Linked DNA regions of Homo sapiens. The protein of the gene in region 5 purifies or fractionates together with the protein of the main gene of each other region. This does not show direct contact. Each region holds a gene or a part of one and is shown on either strand. Other genes may lie near its edges.

Region 1 (2,797 bases), on a different chromosome or scaffold from region 5:
TTTTAATGCTTAAGATTTGTTTTTCTCTTTTCACAGCAACATTTTCTTGAATTTTTTTCTGCACAGCTTTTCCAAAATAAAAACCTTCCAAACAATTCTGCCACTCGCAATCTCTCCTTTCCTCTGTCTCCCCAAAGCCACTGCATGCTGCTGAGTGGCTCCTTTTTCCCTTCGGTCCCCAAGATTCACTCTCCTGTTCTATGGCCTGTTTCCTCTGAAAGAATCTGACTGTCCTGGAATCTTGGCACATGAAGGGTCCTTCAGAGGACGGCAGCCAGGAACACATACAAGCCCGAGATGCCTGCCTGTCCCCTGCGCAGATCTGAAACCATAACAAAAGTGACCAGGGCAAATCAAACTCTGCCAGCCAGGCCTGAGAAAAGATTGATTTTTTTTTTTTTTTTTTGAGTTCCAACCCCAAAAATATTCCAGGACAAGATAGGGGGCAGGCTGGGCTGGTTCTTCTTCAATGGGCTTTTGCCGCCAAGGAGGACAGTGGACTTGGCCCACATCCAGGCTACCCCCAGCCCGCTTCTCCCCTGCTTAGCCCAGGGAGGAGACAGTAGAGGTGATGGGGGCAGCCGGGAGGGAGGGGCCAAGGCAGTGATGCTTTCGGGTAAGAAGTTGGGCTGAGGCTGGGGGCACAGGGAGGAGCTGCCCAGGTGCAGTTACCATTGCTCAGTGACAGAGCCTCAAAGCTTGGCCAGGGCTGAAGGTACCACACGGGTGTGGGTGAGGCAGGCTAAGCGGGATGGCTGCAGCCAAGGAGCTGGGGGAGGGCCGGGCTCAGGGCTAGCCCTCTCCGCTCTAACTGATGATCTGCCGAGGTCGTCCGTAGCCTGTCATGCCGGCCTGGGAGGCCCCTCTGTTGCTGCCCATCTGAAGGCCAATGACATGCTTTCCCTCCTGCAGCTGGCTCTCTGTGAATTCCCTCTTATGCTCCTGCGCTTTCCTAGAAGAGGAGGAACCAGGATAAAGACTTGGTAGAACTGTGTGTTTTCCACCCGTTTTCTGATCCCTCTGTTACGTCCTAGCCCAATCCCATTGCCTTCCTGTTGCACTTTTTTTCCCTAATCTAGCTTGCCTCATAGGCTAGGGAGACTGAGCGCAGGAGGGTGGAAAGGGAGGGGTCAAGGAGTATTAAGGACCCATTATTCCCCATCCCAGACCCTCACTTTATCCTTTCTTGGCTATCTGCTTCCCCTAATCCTTCCCGCAAGCTCCTTAGAACAAGCCACCTCCCACCCCATGCGGAGACCCAAGCTCCCTGGGGGCCACATACTTCATAAACCAGTTGGGATCTCCACGGTAGTGCCCATCATTCTTGGTCACTGCCAAGCTGCCCAAAGCCATCAGGGTCCTCTGCACTGCTGCCATGTCTTTGCCTGTGAGAAGACAGGAGAGAGGAGATGAACATCAAGAACGTATAAACAAGACTCCAAGCCAGGGCCTGCCCCCGTCTCTCACAAAAAAATGGCCAAACCAGGGCCAAGAGTTGTCCCCAATTCAAGGGAGGCCTCTCAGTGGGCCCTGTGAGCGTGGCGTGTTATTCTCGGCATATCCCATCCCTGCTGTGTGCGGGCAAGCACACCCCTAGTTGTGGCATATTCTGGTCATTCCCTCTCCCTGTCCCAGCACCCTGTCCTCCTGCCCACCTCCTCCCCCAGCCTCTTCCTCTCTACCTTCAAAGAGGTCAACAGTCTGGAACATGTCAGTCTTGATGACCCCATAGTCCTCAGCCGCCTTCAGGAACTGAGCCACCTGCTCCATCTGCTTGAAGACCATGGAGGGTGGGTTCTCGGGCACCTTCACCGGCTTGGAGCCATCAGGGTACAGGCTGTTCACCAGCTTGCTCAGAATCTACCAGGCATAGGGCATAGGACGCAGCTTAGCAGTCAGCTCAGGGATTGGCCCAGGACTCACAGGGTGGCACACCCCAGCCCCCCAGCGCCCTAGCCCAGGGTGCCACTCACCACGCCATTCTTCAGCCAGACCTGGAAGCCCAAGCGCCCACGGTCTGGGCGGCCCACATCAGGGCCACACTGCACTATGATCCACTCCACCAGCCGCTCCTCCAGCTCCTCGTCATACTTCTTCTCGATTTTGGACTGCACTTCGCGGCTCATGCCATAGGAAGGACCCTTGTTGGCCATGTCTGGGGAAAGCTAAAGCAGGCCAGGGTGGAGGAGGGAGGGGCAGAGGGTCAGGGAGCAGCTCTGCTTTCACCCGTGCCAGGCAGCCTTCTAGCTCTGTGCAGGATACCCGGCCATCCTAGACACTTGTCACAGCACTGCCCATCCAGGCCAGGCTCAGCCCCTACTCCAGACACCTCTCTGAACTTGAACACCAGGAAAGAGGATACCAGGTCTTTGGAGGTCTAGAGCAGGGGTCAGTAAACTGTTTTTGTAAAGGATAAGACAGAACATATTTTAGGCTTTGCAGGACACATGGTCTCTGCTGTTGCAGTGTGAAAGCAGCCATAGACAATATGTAACAAATGAACATGGCTTTGTTCCAATAAAACTTTACTTACAAAAGCAGACAGCAGGCTGGATTTGGCCCATGAGCTGTAGTTTGACAACCCTTGGTCTAGAACATTCTTTGCCAAGACCAGCTACAGAGCCACTGGAGAGACCTTCCAGAAGCCACATTGCCCCCACAGAATACAGCCAGCTGGTGCCTTTGTCCAGCTGCGGGTGTGAGGGTTTACTGCCTCTGCCTCAAGCAACCATTACCTCCCACTCTCACCCAGAAGCAGGCCCTGGCCTGGAAGCCCGAACTCCAGAACTCCAGCTCT
Region 2 (3,500 bases), 4.2 Mb from region 5:
AGAAATCAGGGGATTCTTTAAGACACTTGAGAAAGGACAGCAGATGATCCAAACCTCTCCGGCCCCACCTCCCAGCCTAGGGCTCTTTCCTGGGCCACCCTCCACCTCTCCCATCAAATTAAATCACTTTCCTACACCTGACAGCAGCCCACTGTCATAAAGCAAGTAACAAGCCGAAGGTCTGTGTGGGAGGTTGATTTGGGAACACTGGATGTACTTAATGTGGAAAGAACCAGGAAAACTCCATCCAGATGCCATGGAGATACCAAGGGTGGCCACGACGCCAGGGGACCCAGGAAGAACTTCGTCTCCTTCACTCACCTGGTCCCCTTCTTGTTGGGCACTGTGTATGGGCGGAGAAAATCCAGCTTGTTCTTGCTGATGACGCAGAGGTCAATGTTGCTTCCGGAGCCCAGGTCGTTGAAGATGCCAGCTGCGATGGCTTCGCTCACCAGATTCTTGGCTTCCTCCTCCTGAGAAACAGAACGGCGGCAATAATGTCCCCGGCCAAACTAGGGCCTGCTCTGACATCCGCAATGTACGTCCACTAGCAGTGCGCAAGACCTCCCGCGAGACAGGTGTTGTTTTTAATGCCCATCTCACAGATGAGGAAAAGATCTCAAAGTACCTTGATTATTTACCCAAAGTTCCCGACCCAGGCCTTTAAAACTTTTTATGCATGCACCGCCTCTTGACCACATCAGACAATCACCACAAAACGATGGGCTGACAGTTACTAGAGGGTTAGTAACTTATCTTTAAAAGGGCCAGGTAGTAAATATTTTAGGCTTTGTGGCCAAAAGTCTCTACCACACCTACTCAACTCTGTCACGCTAGCACAAAACAGCCACACACAAATACATTAAAAAATGGGTATAACTGTGTTCCAATAAAACTCTATTAGCAACAGGCAGTGGGCCAGATCTGGCCCACTGACTGCAGTTTACTAACTATCCCCTGATCAAGAATGTCCAACAATAGCTGAAAGTTACTTGAGAAAGTCAGCACTGTAGGAGGAAGAAACTAACACCAAAACACAAGCCGGTAGTTCTGGGGAAATGCTGGCAGACCAAGGGCGGGACCTCTTGCCCAGAATAATCTCTCTCTCCTACTAAGGAACCTATAGGTTCACTGAAGTAATCCATTACTTTGAATCACTCTCTCCTTTGCCCCACCTTTAAACACAAATCCCCATCCCTAATAGTTACTGGTGAACAGATGGACTCATCCCTTTCTTATCCGAGAAGCCCCATCACATGCTATGTCCTATCACATGCTATACCAGAAGCTAGGGCTGCAGAGGTGGATGACGCCCCCAGATCCCTGCCCCCTAGGGGCTTAAGAGTCTAGCAGGGGCACCTGACCCAAGTAAGTACAATGCAGGGTAAGGCTGGCTAAAGAGCACGTGAAAAGGAGCTGGGAACACAGCTGGTCAGCAGAGCTTCAGGGAGGGCTGAAGGACAGGCTGCACACGAGGCACTCAGAAAACAGCAGTGAAACAGAAGGCAGGCAGCAACGGCAGTGGTACTGGACCTGGGGAACACCAAGTTCAAGCTCTATATACAACGAGGACAAAAATGAACCAGGCTCCCTGAAAGCAGGGAATCTAACCTGTGCTACGGCGCCTTCCCAGTCCACGAGGGCGTGAGAGTACATACACATGCAAGTGCACTCCAGCGCTCACCCAAGCAACACCCTTGGAGAAACACGGACTCCAGGCCCAAATCCAGCCTGAGACCCTCAAAGGGCAGATCCGCTAACCTCAAGTTTTCAGAAGATCTGAACCCACTGGGGGCTCCTGCTCCTCTGCCTGCCCCATGCCAGACTAGGATTCCAGTGACATAAGCGCCCTCTACAGACTCAGAAGGACAGAGAAGGTTCTGCTGGAAGTGGGCTCCTCAGCAAACCAGCAGATAGGGGTTCCTTTGATATTTATACCCCAGGTTTTTTCACTCTCACGTGACATCTATGTGGGGCCAATGAAGCCAATTCTTCTTTTGTACATATGCAGTCCTGTAAGAATGCATTCAAACGGGATCCGCTAATTAGGAATTTTCTCCTGGAATTCTCAACAGTCTATGGGGCCAGAAGCTTTCCACAAACCAGTGAAGGTGGCAGCAAAGAAAGCCTCTTAGACGAGGAGCTGGCAGCAGCTGCTATCTAGATAGACAGCAAAAACCAACCACTAATTCAGCAAACACAACCTCATACCTAACCGCTTCCCTTTAAATGGCCTTCGGTGTGTGCGCACATGGGCACGTGCGGGGAGAACCATACTTATTCCCCTGTTCCCGGCCTACCACCTCTGCTCCCCCTTCTCTTCTCTACCATTTAACTGTCTCCTCTGCTTTGTTTCTTATCACTGCTGCTGGTGTCTAGAGCCAGCCAGCAGTACCTGGCAGACATCGCGACCCTGCGGGCAGCGCTTAGGACTGCACATTTACATTTCCCAAATGATCTGGGTAGATGGGGACAGGTGAAGACTTGGGGAAACGGAAATATACGAATGACATGAGACATGCATATCTAGTGTCAATCCATTCGACTGGGCACAGGACAGCAGACTGCTGACAGTGCTATGTAAGATTATGAGTGATCCTCCCTCTATTTTGCAAACAGTCTGTAAGTAACTGATAAAACTTTAAAATATGCAAATTTTAAAATTATATAGTTTGATTTACTCATCAAATTATCATGTATGCTGTTATTTAAGTATGAATAAAGGCTTTTTTAAATTGGGAAAATACATCTTTTAAATTCCTTTCCTCCCCACCAATTCTAGGGAAGATCATTCCTTAAGGAAGAAAATCTCAAGTTTCTCACTTTTTTCCCCCCAGTCCCACTCCATGTCTCATATACACATGGCTGAAGATGTTAGGAGATGGAATGAAACTTAGATTTATGGAGCACCTATATGCTCACTAAAACAATCAATCAATCAACATCTACCAGCACTCTAACGTGCCAAGCCCTGAGTTGGGCACTTTGATGATCATCATGTTCACCCCTGCCCCCAACCATCTTTTGATGTTGGTATGGTCAGAAACTCTGGCTGACGGTCAATGACTTACACAAGGTCACACAGCAGGTAAACAAAAAATAGTAAAACAGGCCCATCAGGCCCCAGAGCCACAAGGCCGCAGCACCACACCAACTCGCAAGTGACCTTCCTTGGGCCGGGGGCTCCTCAGCTAGTCCCTGACTCAAGGCTGTGTCATTCACGCCCCACCACCAAAGAGCCTTAAGACCTGGGTAAATTTAAGAGGAGGAGGATGGTGTTTGCCGGTTTCTCTCTGGGCCAACCAGCAGCTCCTCTGATGGTCACTCCCATTGGGGGTTGGAGGGCAGTGTTTCCCAAAATACCCAAGACTACCACTTCAAGGGCCTTCTTCATTCTCAACCAAGTTAGGGCAACATCTCTACAATGCAACACCAGATCAATATTAAGATCTAAGGTCTTATTTAACATATCCCTCCCTTAACACCCCAAACCCTCATAA
Region 3 (3,500 bases), on a different chromosome or scaffold from region 5:
AAAAGCTGGTAAAAGATGTATTTGTAAGCCATATTCTATCACCATCTCCTTTTTGGTGGAGATATTAACAATTCAATTATATCCAAGAAAATGCATCAGAAAATTCTATTTATAATATTCTATTGTGGTTTTTTTTTAATCTACTGAAATTCTGTCTTCAAGATTTAGCTTTTCCAAACTCAACATATGCCACATAAAAAAGACATGAAAACAGAAATTTTAAAAACAAACAGCATTTTACTTCAAAGCATCAGTATCCTGGACTCTGGAACTGCGATAAGAAACTTTTACTTGATTCTCATCTTGATTAAAGCCATAATTAGACAGTAGATGACAAAGCAAGGCCACAGCTAACCCATAAGGCAACTTGGTGAAAGTGAGGGAAAAAGCCTGTGTGTGCCATAAGCTACGTGCACAATGCACTGTCATAAAAGACAGGTGCAGACTTCGTCACACGAGGAGCACCAACTTTAACTACTAGACACGTCTGTAGATCTCTATTGTCACTTCAGGGCATGGACTGAGAGTCGTATGTTTCTAAAGCCACCTTGTAAGAATTGAACCTTTCCCCTATTAAGGGAACTATCATTTATTCCTACTGTTAGATGTCCACAGGAAAAAAGGTTGATTAACTTACAAATTTAATCAGAAGCCTTTTATATCCTAATTTATTTATCCATTCTAAGGTACATAACTGTGGTCTAGAAAATTAATTTTAAGGAAAAAAGCAAATTGATATCACAATACTTTTTTTTTCAATTTTTTTTTTCAATGTTTTTTTTTGAGACAGAGTTTCGCTGTCAACCAGGCTGGAGTGCAGTGGCGTGATCTCAGCTCACTGCAACCTCCGCCTCCTGGATCCAAGCAATTCTCATGTCTCAGCTTCCCAAGTAGCTGGGATTACAGACATGTACTACCACGCCTGGCTAATCTTTGTATTACCATTATTATTATTATTATTATTTTGAGACAGGGTCTCACTCTATCGCCAGGCTGGAGTGCAGTGGTGCGATCTCGGCTCACTGCAACCTCTGACTCCCTGGTTCAAGCAATTCTCCTGCCTCAGCCTCCTGAGTAGCTGGGATTACAGGTGTGCACCACCACACCCAGCTAATTTTTTTGTATTTTTAGTACAGACAGGTTTTTACCATGTTGGCCAGGATGGTCTCCATCTCCTGACCTCGTGATCCACCTGCTTCAGCCTCCCAAAATGCTGCGATTACAGGCGTGAGCCACCGTGCCCGGCCTATTATTTTTTTAAATAGAGACAGAGTTTCGCCATGTTTGCCAGGCTGGGTAGGAGAATCGCTTGAACCTGGGAGGCGGAGGTTGCAGTGAGCCGAGGTCACACCACTGCACTCCAGCCTGGGCGACAGAGTGAGACTCTGTCTCAAAAAAAGAAAAAAAAAATCATTAAAAAAAAATCCAAAGAAAATTTGGTGTAACACATGGCATTAGTCAATGGTGCCACACAACAAACAACCCCAAAATCTCTGCAACTTACAAAACATTTATTTATTTCTCCCTCATGTTACATGGGGGCTATGAGTCACTTGTGAGTCTATTCTTTGTGTCTTCTCATTCCAGGACCCAGACTGAACGAGAAATCTCTGAAAACCAGGCTGTTCTCATGGTAGAGGGCAGAAGCACAAGACAGACTGAGCCAAACCACACAGATGCATTTGACATTTTCTGCTTCAACAAGGCATATGTTAATATTCCCTAACATCCCATAGGACAAAATAAATCACATGGCCAAATAGAGTGACCAACCTGCTTGGTTTGCCCAGGACTAAGAGGGCTCCCAGGACACAGGACTTTCTGTTTTAAAATCAGGAACATTCCAAACAAACCAGGACAAGTTAACTATCCTACGTGGCCAAACTCCAAGGTCAAAGGGCAGGGAAATGTACTCCACAGAGGGATGGTGGGTAACATTTTGAAGCAAAAATACAATCTACCACAGACTTGAATAAGTCATTCACAAACAAAATCAAAATCAAAGAACTCTAAATTAAAACAATAAGATACCCTCTTTTTGTTTGTTTTATTCTCAGGTTAGTAAAGTTTAAAACACGATATTCAAGGCCTGGTGCAGTGGCTCATGCCTGTTGCAGTGGCTCATGCCTGTAATACCACCACTTTGGGAGGCCGAGGTAGGAGGATTGCTTGAGCCCAGGAGGTCGAGACCAGCCTAAGTAACATGGCGAAATCCCAGCTCTATAAAAAAATTACATAAATTAGCCAGGTGTGGTGGTGCACACCTGTAATCCCAGCTACCCAGGGGACTGAAGCAGGAGGATCACTTGAGCACAGGAGGTGGAGGTTGCATTGAGCCGAGATCTTGGCCACTGCACTCCAGCCTGGGCGATAGAGTGAGACCCTGTCTCAAAAAACAAAAACAGGAAGACAGGATAGCAACAAGGGACACAAACATTTTTTTTTTTTTTGAGATGGAGTCTCACTCTGTCACCCAGGCTGGAGTGCAGTGGCGCAATCTCGGCTCACTGCAAGTTCGCCTCCTGGGTTCACGCCATTCTCCCACCTTAGCCTCCCGAGTAGCTGGGACTACAGGCGCTCGCCACCGCGCCCGGCTAATTTTTGTATTTTTAGTAGAGACGGGGTTTCACCGTGTTAGCCAGGACGGTCTCGATCTCCTGACCTCGTGATCCGCCCGCCTCAGCCTCCCAAAGTGCTAGGATTACAGGCGTGAGCCACCACGCCCGGCAGGACATGAACATTTCTGTTTCTTGATCAGGGGCTGGTTACACAGTGTGTTCATTTAATGAAAATTCATCCAACTGTACACTTATGATTTATGCACTTTTTTGCTTGTATATAAAAAGGTTTTTTTGGGGGTTGGTTTTTTGTTGTTTTTGTTTGTTTGTTTGTTTGTTTGTTTTGAGACAGAGTCTCGCTCTGTCGCCCAGGCTGGAGTGCAATGGCTCGATCTTGGCTCACTGCAACCTCCGCCTGCCAGGTTCAAGTGATTCTCCTGTCTCAGCCTCCTGAGTAGATGGGACTACAGACACGTGCCACCACGCCCAGCTAATGTTTTGTATTTTTAGTAGAGACAGGGTTTCACTGTGTTAGCCAGGATGGTCTCGATCTTCTGACCTCGTGATCCACCTGCCTCGGCCTCCCAAAGTGCTGGGATTACAGGCATGAGCCACCGCACTGGGCCTTATAAAAAGTTTTTTAAAAATAGCATGTAAGGGCTAATGCCATTTTAAAAATAAATCAAATATACTCATACATCAAAATGTCACCATTAATAATAGTTACTCCAGGCAGTGGGAAATGTTAAGAGAAACACACTACCTTTATGTTAAAAATAAAACAGAATCTGTAGTGCAAAAGATACAATGTTTCCAAAAGGGATGATTAATTTGGAATGTCATCAGAGGTATGAACAATGTATCAATGACCATGAGAAAATTCACATATTCATAGCATACGATCTAGTCACTCTAAATCTGGAACTACATCCTAAAGAAATT
Region 4 (3,500 bases), on a different chromosome or scaffold from region 5:
ACTGTATGGTACTTGTGGTCATGAAATATGCAACATGTATATAGAAGACTGATAAAAATAATCACTTTAGCTATGTCCCTCATCTAGTTAAGCGGCTTAGCCTGCCAGACATTTCTTTATTAAATATTTTTCAATAGGGGCTAATAAATATTTTAACTAGTCTCTTAATTTAAATATGACTGCCATATGTGTTTTATACTTAAGTCACCCTGACTTAAGTAAAAGCTGATAAAGCTTGATTTTTTCACTTCAGCAAGGCTGCTTAAGTTTAGGGATTCAGAGCTTTCACAGACTCAAAACCTAGTGGTTTTGAAAATTTTAAAAACTTGGGTTTTAAGGGGAGAAAATTTATCTGAATTAATAATTTTCCCTAATTGTTTTTAAGAGTACCTGTAAACATTCTAAGCTTCTGGTATTCAAAATCTGATAGATTGGTGCCCTGGGTGTGGAAAACCTGAACAAAGGCAGAAATAACTGAAAGATCAGTGAGCTTTTGTGCTTATACACTGATCCTAATATAGACATTTAGAGCTGGAGAGGATGGTTGGAGAGTCTCCAGTCTTGGCCCTCTTTGTTTAGCCACAAAATTTTGGGTGAGCAAGGATAGTGTGGCATGACCATCACACAGAGTGTCAACTCTAGAGACCCCTGCCTTTGTTTGTACTCTGCCTCCAATTACAAGTATAAGATTTGCAGAAGATTAAATTCCTAAATTTTGTCAGGAAACCTGACAGTTAATTGACACTTTAGCTGGATAAAATACAGAGGTAAGATGGCAGAGTTGAGTAGTTACAATATTGATTGATTTTTGTCTTGGTTTGGAAAGCCTAAAATATTTATGATATGGCCCTTTAAGAAAATGTTTGGTGACTCTTGCTCTAGTCCATTAAATAATCTAGATTTGGGTAGGACCAAAGTGACCAAGAAAGAAAAACCTGAAAAATACCAATTAATTATAATAACAGGACTTTTGAATATAAAAGAATGAGGTTTTAAAAATTTTGATGTACCCCTTATTAATTAGCAGGATATTTCACTTCTTTGAGAGTAGCCACTCTCTTAACTCATGATCAATTATGAATTTTATATTTAAAGAATCTGGTCATAATAATTGACAAAAATCTAGATTTTGATTTGTCAAGCTCCTGAGTATCTGCTGTGAGTAAGGCTGTCTCTCTACAAAGGCAATACGGGGAAAATGTTCTAAGTCTTTACTTTGGGGTCTCATGAAGTTGGCATATCCTCAAGATAGAACGATCAAGAGCAGATTTCATAAAGAACTGTTTCCCAAGGCCATGTTGCTTTTTTTCTGGTCTCTGTGCCGCATGTGAAGCCGGTGGAGACTGCTCTTTCCTCCTCCTCCTCAATTACCAGTTATTCGTTAAAATGAGAAACTTCCTCCTCCTTCCCCTCACACCCTGGCCAACATTGCAAAATGTTATATAAATGAATTCATATAGTTTGCAACCTTTTGTACCTTCTTAAAAACAAATTAGTGTATTTTGGATATAGATCTGCCTTTTTAATTTCATGTCTGCATAGTATTCCATTTTATAGGCATACTTTAATCAATATTGATGGGCTGTTTATAGCAAAAATTTGTAACTATGAAATTACAGTATCAGAATGTATGAATGAATTTTGATAGGTATTTCCAATTTTTTCTCAGAAAAGAGTGTTTCTAATGTGCAAAAGTTCTTATTTTTGTATAAGAATGCCTATTTCCCCATACCACCAGCAACATGGTATATCATAGAACATTTTACTTTGCCAGTCAGTTTTTTTAATCACCACTAGTCATTTTTTTCAATTTTTGCAGTTGCTGGGTGTTATATTTGGGCTAAGTGAAGTTTAATTCTCATGCCTTGAATATTGCAAGAGAGTATTTCATTGCAAGAAATAATGTTGGAGATAAAATATTTGTGTAATGTTTCCAAGTATGTTGTTGGAATGTTTCAAAAATCAATGGAATTTCAGTATAGCAGGCCTTTGGAAATGAGCCTGTAATAGTTAATGGTGAGGATAAGAAATTATTATGTAGAGCTTAATATTCTTAAGCAGACTGATTCCCAAGCATGAGTAGAATTTTATCAAGTTTATTTGTTTTAAAATCAATACAAGTTGATTTCATTGAAATAAACAAATTGGGAAAGAAATACTTATTTCAGACCTCATTTTGAGAATGCTGGCTTCTCTAATAGAAGTTAACCAATTGAAAGGAGTGTGGGGAGGTGGGGGTGGGAAGAGAGATTTTTTTTCCCTTAGCAAACCAGTCATTTCTGAGCTTAGCATTTTTATTGCTCAATTTAACATTGCCTGAGAACATAATTGCATTTGAGTTTATAGCTGTTCTAACAATGTTTTGATGTACAGAGAACAGAAATGTATTTCTCTAGGAATTAGGTACTTCATCGGTCTAGAATTGACTTAAATTGTTTAGTAAACTTTAAATAATATTCACCTCTTAAGTGTGTTTAAGGTGCTTTGCAAATGGTGAAATGGTGCAAATGGTGCAAGTGGTGAAATAGTGAAACTGATGGATTTGAGCAGGAAATATATATCCCGAATGGGCAGAATATAGGTTAATGTGAGGGTAGAAATTGGAGTGGGTGACTTTATACCATGGAGAATTCAGATTGAGGACATCCTTATGTGTATGTGTGTCTTAGTAGTGGTTAATCTTCCACTTCAAACTTTGAGAGTCTGTTTATGGATTGGGTACATTTTGCGGAAATTAGATTGACCCCCAAATGTACAGAGGACCCTGTCTTTTAAAATCAAATAACTGAGGCTTTTCCTCATCAATGAGAAGTTAGAACAGCAAATTATCTCACAAAAAAATTATATTTTGGGAGAAGGTAGGTCAAAAATTCTAGAATCATTTTCTCTTTAATCCAGCTTAATCCTTTTGCTTATCCAAAATAACATGGCATGACTTTATTACTATTCCAATATGCTACCACAGAAGGTTTAGGACTTATTGAAATAAAATGATGACGGAAGAGTGACCTTTCAAAAGTAATATGTATGTAATACCACAGAACCGTGGATTTCAAAAATAGTGAATGTGAAGGAAACAAAAAACCTTCCAACTACATTTTTTTTGGCATCAGAATTTGTTTTCTACCATAGGGCTATTCACATACTGAATTTCGTTTTCCAAAAACCAAAAGACCTGAAAAGACCACTATTAAACACACACATTCTTGCTCATTCTACTCCCCAGGCCTTTGCTGTCCAGAATGGTAGCCACTAGCCACATGTGTCTACATTTAAATTAATTTAAATAAAATTAAAAGTGCAACTCAGTTGCAGTAACTATATTTCAGGTGCTCAGTAGTCACATGAGGCCACATGACAGTGCATATGTGGTATGTCTCCATCGCTGCAGAAAGTTCTTTCGGACAGCACTCGCTAGACTAGTAGTGGGGATGCCAAATAAGAGAGACTTGATTCCCTGCTGGCTTTACGAAGAGTTCCTGGGAGGGAAGCTGAAGCTT
Region 5 (3,500 bases):
GAGATATAAGGACACTGGAGAATTAGTAAATGCCCTTGGCTCTCAGCTGAACTTTGATTTTCAGCAATGAGGCCCAATTCAGTTCCTTCTCACTCAGACTCCCTCACCAACCAGTATGCTCGACCACATTTACCAAATTATTATCAAGAACTTAAGCCAAGTAATTCCTACACAGGAAATTATCCCTAACGCCAAAGTCATCCACCTCACCTTTCTTGGGGGGTATATGTCCCTAAAATACTTAATAGAAAGGGGTATTTAGTTCCCCAAACATGCATGTCACAATTCAATGGAACATCTCTTACCTTTCAGTTCAGTGGCCTCTAGCAGTTTCTTCCACAAACTGATCACCTCATTCATACGAGCTGCCACTTCATCCTTGGCATAGTGGTTGACATCAATCAGCTTTTGGCCAGCTTTCTCCAAGGCATCAATTCGGCTCTGGTTTGCTGAGAGCTCAGCCTCAAAAGCCTGATGCTTCTGTACTTTTCCTTGTAGGTTGGATGGATCCTGTGAATAAAAGAAGGGGGTTCTTTCTATCTTGAACCTGAGAACGTCAAGTTCCCTTGCACTACCTTCATACTTATCTTTATGGAGGAATGTATAAAACAGTTGGCTTACATTAAGTAGTGGGGTTTCTGGAATCCCTTATTTCGTCCTTTAGCTACAATTTATTTGTGAGAGCTGTGTTTAGCTTACTAATCGAGTGCTACATGGCAACACTAACAGTACATTACTTTATAAGCTTCATCTGTGGCAGTTTTCATCTTCTCATTGACCCAACTCTTGAGCTCATCAGAATCACGGAAAAACTGCTGCAGATGGAAAGAATCGGCTAGCTGGGCCCGGCGACGCATGGCTCTCTCGTGAAGGGCATTGCGGCGGCTCAACAGCTGAAAGACAAGGATCCCCTGTGAGTCTCTAGTGTTCACTCCCAAAGGGATATCCAGTTGAAGAGACTTAACTGGAACATCTTAGAAGAGACATTCATGTACCAAAAAGGAGGAGCATGAAGAACCTACAAACTTACAGCATCTCGGCGAGTGGCCACATCTTCCATTGCATAGTGGTTGTTCTGAATTAGCTTGGTTGCAAATTCATCTAATGCCTAGGAAGGAAGATAAGAGTTCTTCATTGGTAAGCACACTAGTCCCAAGCTTGGCCTCTGGAGAAAAGTAACTGCTGAACAGATCATAAAACACACCAAACTTTAACATAGGTCAAGGTTTTCACCCAAAGGTTGGTGATGACATTTTTTCTCATAACTTTTGAGATTTTGCTTGATGTCACCAGTCAGATATCATAAGACTGCACTACCTCCATTCAAGACTGGAGACATTAGTTGTGGCACGATCTCCTGGCAGGGGTCAAACACAGGTTAACAGCTTTCCAAATTCTTATTTCTAAGATGTATTTTCAATGGGAAGAGTACCTCTTAATATTAACCCTGACCTACTTTTAATGAAGGGTACAAACTTAAAGAAGTTTGGAGGTTTCCATTAAGTAAATCATTTTTCCATAAAGTTGTATTATGTCTTCAACGAGATAGCATGTCATCCTTGTGAAAGTTTAAGCACCCACAGGAGTACTCTGCATATGAATCTTTCATCAAATCTGTTTGGAATCCTTCCAGGGAAAAAGACTCTGGCTTACTATAAGGGTCATTTGAAAGCACTGACAAGAAGGGGTCTTACTGTAATCTTTTCCTCCTGGGCACTAAGGGATTTCTCAAAGTCTTCGTGCTTCTTAAGAAGCGCTTCCACACTATCCAAGGAATCTCCCAAGTCTTCATTCAACAGGAACGCCTTGCCAAAGGAAACAAAGTGTTCAGAATAATGTCCTATTCCTTTGATCTTCTAAGACTGTGAAGCAAAGGGTATTTTGGCCAAAATATAAAAAGAAGGAAAGAGATTTTATGGCTGCTAAACTTCTAAGATCTCTTCTAGGAAGTCTAAAGTCCTTTTGGATTTTCTTAAAATCAATCCAGCCATATCATGAAATCCTATTCCACATTCTATTGAAACTTCTCTTACATAGTTTTTGTTGCTTCTATTAGATTCAGATGTTACATAATGCTAAGGTTTGTTTTTTTTGTTTGTTTTTTTTTTTTTTGTGAGACAGGATCTCGGTCTGTTGCACAGGCTAGAGTGCGGTGGTACGATCATAGCTTGCTGCAGCCTTGAGCTCCTGGGCTCAAGGGATACTCCCATCTCAGCCTCCCAAAGTGCTGGGATTACAGCAGGGAGCCACTGCACCCAGCAATGCTAAGTTCTAAGAAAAAAATCTCTTTAATAAAACATTTTACATCACACTAATCTGAAAAGCTGGGGCCTTTTCTGAAGGCCTTGCAATCTCAGCAGGGAGAGATGCTGGCAGAGCTGAGAGAAGCTTGCTCAATTCCCCCTCTTCAATGGATTCAGAACTAACATGGTACTGATGTCCTAAAACAAAACAAGCACACTACCCGAGGAGGCAAAACACAGGCCCTTCTTCTCCCACCACTGGCAAGGCTTTGCTCACAGATTACCTCCTGCTTGCTCATCCAGTTGTCCACCTGCTCAGTGTCCCGGTAGAAGAGCTGCAGGTCCATGCACTGCTCGTACTGCTGCCTGCGCAGCTCCCACAGCTCCAGCAGCGCCGCTCTCTCCTCGGAAAGGACGGTCAGCTTGGGGGCATAGGAGACATGGTCAGGGAGATGAGGTCAGCCCCAATGCCTCCGAGGCAGACAGAACAGCTATCCTGGAATTCCTAATCCTAGTGCTAATCTTCAGGCCTTTTTTCCGATTTGCAAAAGGGGAAAAACAACATTCACTTGTATGTGCATGTTCAATATAAAAGGGATGGCCTGTTTTAATTAATCTAGAATTAATTTATTGCCAAATGATCACAAATGACTTTAGGTAAAAACAGTAAGTAAACTCCCAGGTAGAAGAAATAGGGCATCCATTTAAAAGTGAGGCAGTATAAATGGAGTTTAATGGAGTATAAATGGAGTAGGGACTCTCCACTAAGAAATGTCAACTGAGTGGGTGCTCCATAACATATGGAAAATAAATTCAGAAACTCCCTAGACTTTAGGCTCCGAAGCTACTAATGACAAGTCTTTGAAATGTCTTTACTCTATGTAATACTAAAAAACATATAAATCATATAAATCATTATTTATCTAATGTTCCTAGGCAATTTTATACTCGAAGATACTTCAAAACTTATATACATATGTGTATATATATACACATATAAAAAAAGTAAAATAAAATATGTATATATATACATATTTTATTTTTATTTATTTATTTTTTTTTAGAGACAGGGTCTCACTCTGTCACTCAAGCCAGAGTGCAGTGGTGCAAATCATAACTCATTATAACCTTGAACTCAAGTAGCTCGGACTATAGGAATGTGCCACCATGTCTGGCTAATTTATTAATTTTTTGTCCAGATGGGGGTCTCACTATGTTGTTCAGGATGGTCTCCCATTCCTGGCCTCAAGCAATCCT
Region 6 (3,430 bases), on a different chromosome or scaffold from region 5:
CTATTGCCATTTCACCATAGGCACACTAGAGAAAAAGAGGAAGGTTAGTCAAGGATGGTGCCAATGGCCAGTCAGTATCGGCTTACAGCTTGTAATGCGTCCTGACATCACTATCAAGCCTGACTATTGAGCACCTGTATCCAGTTGAGTCACCACCACTGTCCTCCTATTTGCATGCATGATTTGAGGGGAAGACTAGAGTGTTTTAAATCATCAATAAAAAGTGGAGAAAACAAAGGTTATTCAGAGCCTGTCTCACTTGGGGACACAGATCCTTCTGTCCAGTCTATCAGAAATATAGAATACATTTTTCAATCTAATGAATTAATTTTAAAAGGGACCCTAAACAAGAAGCCCAATCAAATGCACACAAGTAATCTAGAAGACATGATTACCTCTAAAATATGTGCATATATCACAGAGATGTTAGTGCAGATTAATATATTAAAGAGACTGTTAAACAACTGAGGCTGAAGTTTTAAAAGAGCCCTCCCCCCAAATCTTCACGAAACATAACCTAAGAAAAGCCCAAATGTTACTAGGAATGTAAGACTTAAAATTATAAACTCCTAAAAAATAGAAGTGCATGGTGGAAACACTGATAGGTCTTTTACTATATGAACACAAACTTCTTTGTTAAAAATGGATACCTGAACAAACCCATTTAGGCAAATAGATTAATCTTTAACACCCTCATTACAAAGTTCACACCTCTGAATTTAACCGTCATGAAAGAGAATGATCCAACTGCTATTTATGTTCAAGTCCTGTATTTTTGGCCATGTAACTGAAAACTCCTTATTCATTCTTTAACACACAGTGCAATAGTGAAATGACTCTGCCACTGTGTGTTTTTTAAAAAAAGATCAGAGTAAGCATGTTCCTAGTAAACCACAAAGTAGGATATTGAGGAAGCAAATCTAGATTAAAAGGCAGGAAAAAAAGGCAGAAGTTTAAATTTCACTAATTTTTCAATTTATTAGCATACCAGGACCCTTTAAACCTTGTTCCCATTAGCGCCTGGTATTAGATGTGAAGGATCAAACCTACGGATCTATCTCCTGACTGCTTTTATAAGGCGTGTAAAAGTCGGTTTTCAACTGCACACAGGCCTCCTAAAATGCCTTGTTTCTCTAGTCCCTCCTGCTTTAAGCAGCATGAGCAGTAAAGCAGGGGTTGGACCAAATAAAAAGACAAGAGCTAACTGAATTGTATGGGAGCAGCATTTAACATATTCCTAGTCAAGGACAGGATGGGAAGTAAGTGAAGAATAGGGCCAGGAAAATAGTGTCCTATAGCAGAGGTGGTTGGCACTCGGGGTAGGGTGTGCAGTGGTGCTCTACGAAGCAGCAGGATCACAGGGATGTACTTCTTATCACATTTCTATGAAGAAATGGGAAGATCGGGATATGAAAAAGAAAATGTTCTATCCCCAAATAAAAGCAGAGCATGGTTAATGGGACCTGAATGCACATTTATAGCATAAAAGAATGTCAATTCTATTTCATAAAGGAAAAATCTCAACTCTTTGTGACTGAGTTTCACATTAACTGGAACTTTATTTGCTTAAAACCTAAACATTGTCAGTTTGAAAAGAAATCCACTGTGACCTGTAGACTGATCTTGTTGATTAAATTCTAGGGTTTTTTTTTTTTTGGATTCTTGGTAAAATTTTATCCAAAAAACAGGATACATATATATTTAGAGAAGGAAATATGAAATCAAGAGTTTTGGCAGCCCCTGCTTTTTTTTTTTTTTTAGCTCCCTAAAGACTGTAGCAGGATAAAAGGATCACTGGCTCCGAGTCTCTTTGAGATAACAAGTGATGAAATAAAAAAGAAAGCCCATACCCTCAAATAAGGTCAGGTAACCCCATTGCCCACCCTCCCTACAAGGTAAAAAATGAGTACTTTTAGTAACAGTTCAGAATTCATCTTTATCTCCTACCTGCCTCATCGGTGGAAGTTTAAAGTCATGATTTTTTTTAGACATTGATACTTGTGTCTATAGACAAATAAACTCATATTAGATGACAATTGATTTTTTAAAAGTCCAGGTAGAGAAAGGAGCAATCATTTTGAACTAAAATCTTTCTATGTTTTTTGATTACTATTCAACTTGCTATTTTTTAGCAAAAAGCGAAGTTTCAATAGTGTTCATCTCAAATCTTATTGCTTTACAACCGTGGTACACCTTTCATTAAAAATAAAAAGATGAAGCAGTCAATCCAGTGATTAATTTGACATGGCTTTCATTGGGAAAGGGGAGGGCTGGCAAAGAGACCAATAGACAAAAAGGTAACTTAAACACTTACACATACAATGGTTTGCTTTAAAAAAAAAAAAAAAAAAAGAGAGAGAGAGAGAAATGTTACTTTCAACAAATGGAAAAAAGCACTGAAAGCCCATGAGTCAAGCCATAGCCAAAACCATGTTCTATCTTAAGTAGGTTCTTTTTTTTCCTCCCTCTTTTTTCTTTTTTTTTCTTTTTTTTTTTAATAAAATCTCTCCCCAGACCATCATCACTTTTAATCCTCCCCAGAAGGGGCTTCATCTTCAGACCCTTCATCCCCAGATTTCTCGGGTGGGGGGCTTGTAGATGTTTTCTTTTCTGGCGGGCTTTCCGGTTCCTCATCTTCTTCTTTGGGAGAAGGAGTCTTTTCCTTTGATGCCTTTGAAGCTGTGGGGCGACCCACTTTCCCTTTGCCTTTCACTGGACTTGGCGTCACTGAAAATAGAAAAATAATTTGGGGAAGGGAAGAGAAAAAAATGTCTTTAATAAAAGTCAGCTACAAAATACAACAATCTGTAAGAATAAAATCTATAAAGACAATATGCAACTTACTAAAAACCAAGGTGGGCACAAGGGAGCACATATATCCCTAGGTAAATCTATCTCAGTTTCTAAACTGGTCATAAGTTACTACACTATGCTACAGTATTTCCCATCAGTTTTTACCAACACTCTATGATGTTAGCAGTAATACCTGTAAAGAAGAAGCACCATGCTATAGAATATGCACAACATCCTTAATTGCTTGGTAAACTAACAGTTGTTTATGATAAAAGTTGTTTATAAAAAGCAGGTCAAAAAGACGGAAGGAAAAGAATTAATCTGATCAGAAACTAAAGCCATCAAATAACATTTGATAGTTCCATCATTCCTAACAGTAGGAAGTGATAAACAGAAGTTTAACAATGACTAGTTCTACCTAACAGAATAAAACCACCTACACAAAAAGCAAATTGATTTCTGATTTAGTTAACAAACTAGCTCCAACGAGGAGAAACCATTAGGGCTCAGAAAAAAATCAACTCATGTCATCAAGTGTGGTTTTATTCTGATAGCACAGAGGATGGGGTAGAGTTCAGAACGTGGAACTTAAACGTATTACTCTAGGTTTGTGCATTTTCACAATTAAGTCTTTGCT
Region 7 (4,037 bases), on a different chromosome or scaffold from region 5:
TATCTGGCGGTCTTGATTTGAATCTACTAATCATCTTTCGGCCTTTTTTTTTCTTTGCTGAAATGTATCTAAGAGCTTAGAAGTAGCATTCTGCTCATTTCCCCCCCACCCCCAGGAGTGCCCCAAGCTTTCTTGAGCTGACTGATTGTAGATGTTCTTTTTTTTTTGTTCCCCAGTGTGTTGCCTGTGAGTGTGACCTCGGAGGCTCTTCCTCAGGAGCTGAAGTCAGGATCAGAAACCACCAACTGTACTGCAACGACTGCTATCTCAGATTCAAATGTAAGAGAGCAAATCAGAGAGAAAATTTCTTGCCTTTTAAGGAGGCCACGGGTTCCCATGCATTTCCCTGAACCTGCAGCGAGCTCCCCTCCAAGTTCACTGCCATAGGATTCCAGGTTTCAAGAATTGTAGTGTGTTCCCTTCAAAGAGTGTGTATAGTGAATGGGTCACTGCTCAGGGTTCCAGCTACACAGGAGTGGGTTGTGGGGCCAAGGAATGGAGAGGAACAGTGTCCAAAAGTCAGGATGGTGTCTTGTGTTATCTGCCCAGAGTCCGCAGAGACCTTTAATGACTCAAGAATACAAACAAACCAAAACACTTAAATGAATCTTCTATGTAGGATTTGTTTCTTGACTAAAGATTGGTCCCTCATCAACTTCTATTATTTAACAATGGGCTTTGATTATGTGATTTAGAATATGACCAACTTTAAAAAATATTGTTCCATGTAATACAAAATAAGTCAGTTTATGCTTTATGTTAATATATGTCAATATATAATTTTAAAAGGAAAGTATTAACTATGGTGTTTCAGTGTCATTTTTGGAAAAAATGAGTTTTTCAAAAAACTTCAAATGCTACTTTGCATCTAAGCATGTGTTTGTGTGTTATAAAAGGTAGGCTAGCATAACTAGGTTGTGTGTTGTGTATAGCTACAGCAAGACAAGTATTACTGCTGTTTTATATTTTAAACCTTGATGCTGGTAACATGTGTTTCTTCCTTATTGTGAAAGGGTGTTACAAGTGGTATCAGCAAAATCATTTGCTTTTGAACTCTGAGGTATTTATATGGCCCCTATGTGAAGAGTGCTTTGGAAATGGTTTAAGCCCAGTCAACTCTCTTTTATCTGTCGGTGGGTTCTGAGCCTTCCTGCTGCAGCTGTCCAGTCCTTTCCTGGATGCTGACACTGAGGTTGGAGAAAGTCAAGGCTGGGCATGTACTGGTGGGGGGTGTGTGTATGTGTGTGTGTTTTTCTCTCTCTCATCAAATTCCAAAGCCAAATAGAAATGATTTCTGGAATCACCATTGTAAAATTGCCCATGCCTTTTCTCTCCTCCAAAACAAATAATAGAGAGTTGAGTGTAATTTATTTCTATTGTGAGCAGTTCATTTTTACTCCATTTTTACAAATAAAGAATTCCAGAGACGAGACACTGAGACTTGCCTAGCTTTATCCTAAGAGTGAGTGACAGGTTACTCTTTCTACCTCATTGGGCCACTTTCTGAGTGATGACTGCTATGTATCCCAGATGGCAATATTCACGTTTCTGAATCTAAGCACTTTTCTTTCTTTTCTCCTTGCCCGATCAGCTGGACGGCCAACCGCCATGTGATGTAAGCCTCCATACGAAAGCACTGTTGCAGATAGAAGAAGAGGTGGTTGCTGCTCATGTAGATCTATAAATATGTGTTGTATGTCTTTTTTGCTTTTTTTTTAAAAAAAAGAATAACTTTTTTTGCCTCTTTAGATTACATAGAAGCATTGTAGTCTTGGTAGAACCAGTATTTTTGTTGTTTATTTATAAGGTAATTGTGTGTGGGGAAAAGTGCAGTATTTACCTGTTGAATTCAGCATCTTGAGAGCACAAGGGAAAAAATAAGAACCTACGAATATTTTTGAGGCAGATAATGATCTAGTTTGACTTTCTAGTTAGTGGTGTTTTGAAGAGGGTATTTTATTGTTTTTTAAAAAAAGGTTCTTAAACATTATTTGAAATAGTTAATATAAATACATAATTGCATTTGCTCTGTTTATTGTAATGTATTCTAAATTAATGCAGAACCATATGGAAAATTTCATTAAAATCTATCCCCAAATGTGCTTTCTGTATCCTTCCTTCTACCTATTATTCTGATTTTTAAAAATGCAGTTAATGTACCATTTATTTGCTTGATGAAGGGAGCTCTATTTTCTTTACCAGAAATGTTGCTAAGTAATTCCCAATAGAAAGCTGCTTATTTTCATTAATGAAAAATAACCATGGTTTGTATACTAGAAGTCTTCTTCAGAAACTGGTGAGCCTTTCTGTTCAATTGCATTTGTAAATAAACTTGCTGATGCATTTAACGAGTGGGTCGTCTTTTTCTTAGGTGTATGTGTCTGACCTCAGGCCTTTTAGCCATATTTCAGTATGTGGCCTTTTTTGATGTTATGTTTTATCCAGTAGCTTTACTAAGGTATAATTGATGTAATAAACTGCATATATTTAAAGTGTATACTTTGACAAATTTTGACATGGTGTATACCTTCGAAACTATGCCACAGTCTGGATGTGTTTACTGAAACATTTTAATAAGGAAGTTTATTTTTGATAAAGTTATGTTTTTGGATACAATATATTTGTATGGTGAGAGTGATGAATTGTTGGATCATTTGAATAAAATCTTTTACTAACCCCATGATAAAAGGAGAAGACAACAGTGAGCTTAGAATATCTATAAAGCAAAAAATGTAGTCTCTTGTTTAAAAAATCTGGAGCGGGAATGCAAGGATACAAAACTTTAGCATGCTTTGAGCAAAAATTTAAACTTACTGGAATCTTTTATAATAATGTAAGTGGAATGGAGGATTCTAGGAACTGAGAACTGTATTGGAATAGGTTCAAAATATGTAAGAAATGCTAATGTGGGAGATAAAAATTTTATTTAGTACTTATTCTGATTATTATTAAAGTAATAATGTGTTCCTTGAGGATAACTTGTCAAATGCCCCAAAGCATAAAGAATATAATTCTGAATCCCAAATTCCAAAGACAAGAACTCTGTGTTTGAATTCATTCTGCATATAATTATTTATAAGTATAGATTGTGAATTTTTCCATGTTCTTAAAATTATTTTTATCTTTTTTCATGGTTGCATAGTGCTCCATTGTTTGGCCTTGGTAATATTTAGTTGATAATTCCATTACTGTGTATTTTTCACTTGTTTCTAAGATCAAACATTTTAATATGTGCATGTTATATATAAATATGTAAATTCTGTGATACTCTATGATCATCTCTTTCTTTATATTATTTTCATAGACATGAAATAGTTGCTCAGAGATTATGCATTTTAAGACACTCATAGTATATATTGCCAAAGTGGTTTCCAGAAAGGCACTGCTGGCTTCGACTCCTATAAGCAGCACGTGGGCTTGTTCATCTCACTGCATGTTTATGAAGATACAGTTCTTTTGCCTTGTTCTCTGCCTGATGTGTATGCAGAGGCAGCCCTCAATATGCAGTGGTTGAATAAATGAATGAAGAAACCACTATCAATTTCTGCCTTGTTAATTCTGTTTTCCACTGTCCCCAGAGGATGCCTTAATTCTGCCATCATTTTCGTTTCCTTATCCAAAATCCTTTCTGACCATTGCTCCTTTTCATCTAAGCCTTTTGTCTTTTCATCTGCTCTTGTTTTCTTATGATTTTTTCCCCCATTTCTCACATTATCTTACTTAGTGATAACATTTCTGTTAGTACAAATTATAAGTACAGTTTTCAGAGCTATTTTCTTCTAGGATACCGGCTCTACATTTGTATAAGCCCTTGGGTATTTGTTACTTCACCTAGGAACAAGGGAAGAGTCCAGCCCTTCAACAAATTTTTTAATTCATACTTTATGCTCCAGGCACTGCTTTTGGCACCATGGGTAGAACAGTGAAGAAATACAGTCTTGGCTCTGATTGGTCTTATTTTTCTGGTTGAGGGAGGTGATAAAACAATACATGAAAAAATAACATGCAGGTGGCGATGAGAGCAACAAAGAACAAAT

Evidence for each region.
Region 1: the proteins of SPTAN1 (region 5) and TAGLN purify together in Homo sapiens (co-immunoprecipitation; one large-scale study listed by IntAct). This does not show direct contact.
Region 2: the proteins of SPTAN1 (region 5) and PSMB7 fractionate together in Homo sapiens (co-fractionation; one large-scale study listed by BioGRID). This does not show direct contact.
Region 3: the proteins of SPTAN1 (region 5) and CTPS2 fractionate together in Homo sapiens (co-fractionation; one large-scale study listed by BioGRID). This does not show direct contact.
Region 4: the proteins of SPTAN1 (region 5) and TSPAN3 fractionate together in Homo sapiens (co-fractionation; one large-scale study listed by BioGRID). This does not show direct contact.
Region 6: the proteins of SPTAN1 (region 5) and NUCKS1 fractionate together in Homo sapiens (co-fractionation; one large-scale study listed by BioGRID). This does not show direct contact.
Region 7: the proteins of SPTAN1 (region 5) and LMO7 fractionate together in Homo sapiens (co-fractionation; one large-scale study listed by BioGRID). This does not show direct contact.

The regions. Positions count from the first base shown.
Region 1 is NC_000011.10:117,202,370-117,205,166, reverse strand, and holds part of TAGLN (transgelin), read right to left. Parts: intron 2,166-2,797; 5' UTR 2,154-2,165; coding exon 1,974-2,153; intron 1,861-1,973; coding exon 1,683-1,860; intron 1,386-1,682; coding exon 1,283-1,385; intron 953-1,282; coding exon 808-952; 3' UTR 1-807. UniProt on the Homo sapiens protein: Actin cross-linking/gelling protein. Involved in calcium interactions and contractile properties of the cell that may contribute to replicative senescence.
Region 2 is NC_000009.12:124,356,443-124,359,942, forward strand, and holds part of PSMB7 (proteasome subunit beta type-7 precursor), read right to left. Parts: intron 2,745-3,500; exon of another isoform or gene 474-2,744; coding exon 322-473; exon of another isoform or gene 1-321. UniProt on the Homo sapiens protein: Component of the 20S core proteasome complex involved in the proteolytic degradation of most intracellular proteins. This complex plays numerous essential roles within the cell by associating with different regulatory particles.
Region 3 is NC_000023.11:16,699,170-16,702,669, forward strand, and holds part of CTPS2 (CTP synthase 2), read right to left. Parts: intron 1-3,500. UniProt on the Homo sapiens protein: Catalyzes the ATP-dependent amination of UTP to CTP with either L-glutamine or ammonia as the source of nitrogen. Constitutes the rate-limiting enzyme in the synthesis of cytosine nucleotides.
Region 4 is NC_000015.10:77,047,110-77,050,609, reverse strand, and holds part of TSPAN3 (tetraspanin-3), read left to right. Parts: intron 1-3,500. UniProt on the Homo sapiens protein: Regulates the proliferation and migration of oligodendrocytes, a process essential for normal myelination and repair.
Region 5 is NC_000009.12:128,580,087-128,583,586, reverse strand, and holds part of SPTAN1 (spectrin alpha chain, non-erythrocytic 1), read right to left. Parts: intron 2,666-3,500; coding exon 2,528-2,665; intron 1,806-2,527; coding exon 1,695-1,805; intron 1,109-1,694; coding exon 1,031-1,108; intron 894-1,030; coding exon 738-893; intron 511-737; coding exon 306-510; intron 1-305. UniProt on the Homo sapiens protein: Fodrin, which seems to be involved in secretion, interacts with calmodulin in a calcium-dependent manner and is thus candidate for the calcium-dependent movement of the cytoskeleton at the membrane.
Region 6 is NC_000001.11:205,715,753-205,719,182, forward strand, and holds part of NUCKS1 (nuclear ubiquitous casein and cyclin-dependent kinase substrate 1), read right to left. Parts: intron 2,728-3,430; coding exon 2,528-2,727; 3' UTR 1-2,527.
Region 7 is NC_000013.11:75,856,330-75,860,366, forward strand, and holds the end of LMO7 (LIM domain only protein 7), read left to right. Parts: intron 1-176; coding exon 177-279; intron 280-1,591; coding exon 1,592-1,614; coding exon of another isoform or gene 1,615-1,684; 3' UTR 1,685-3,537; downstream 3,538-4,037.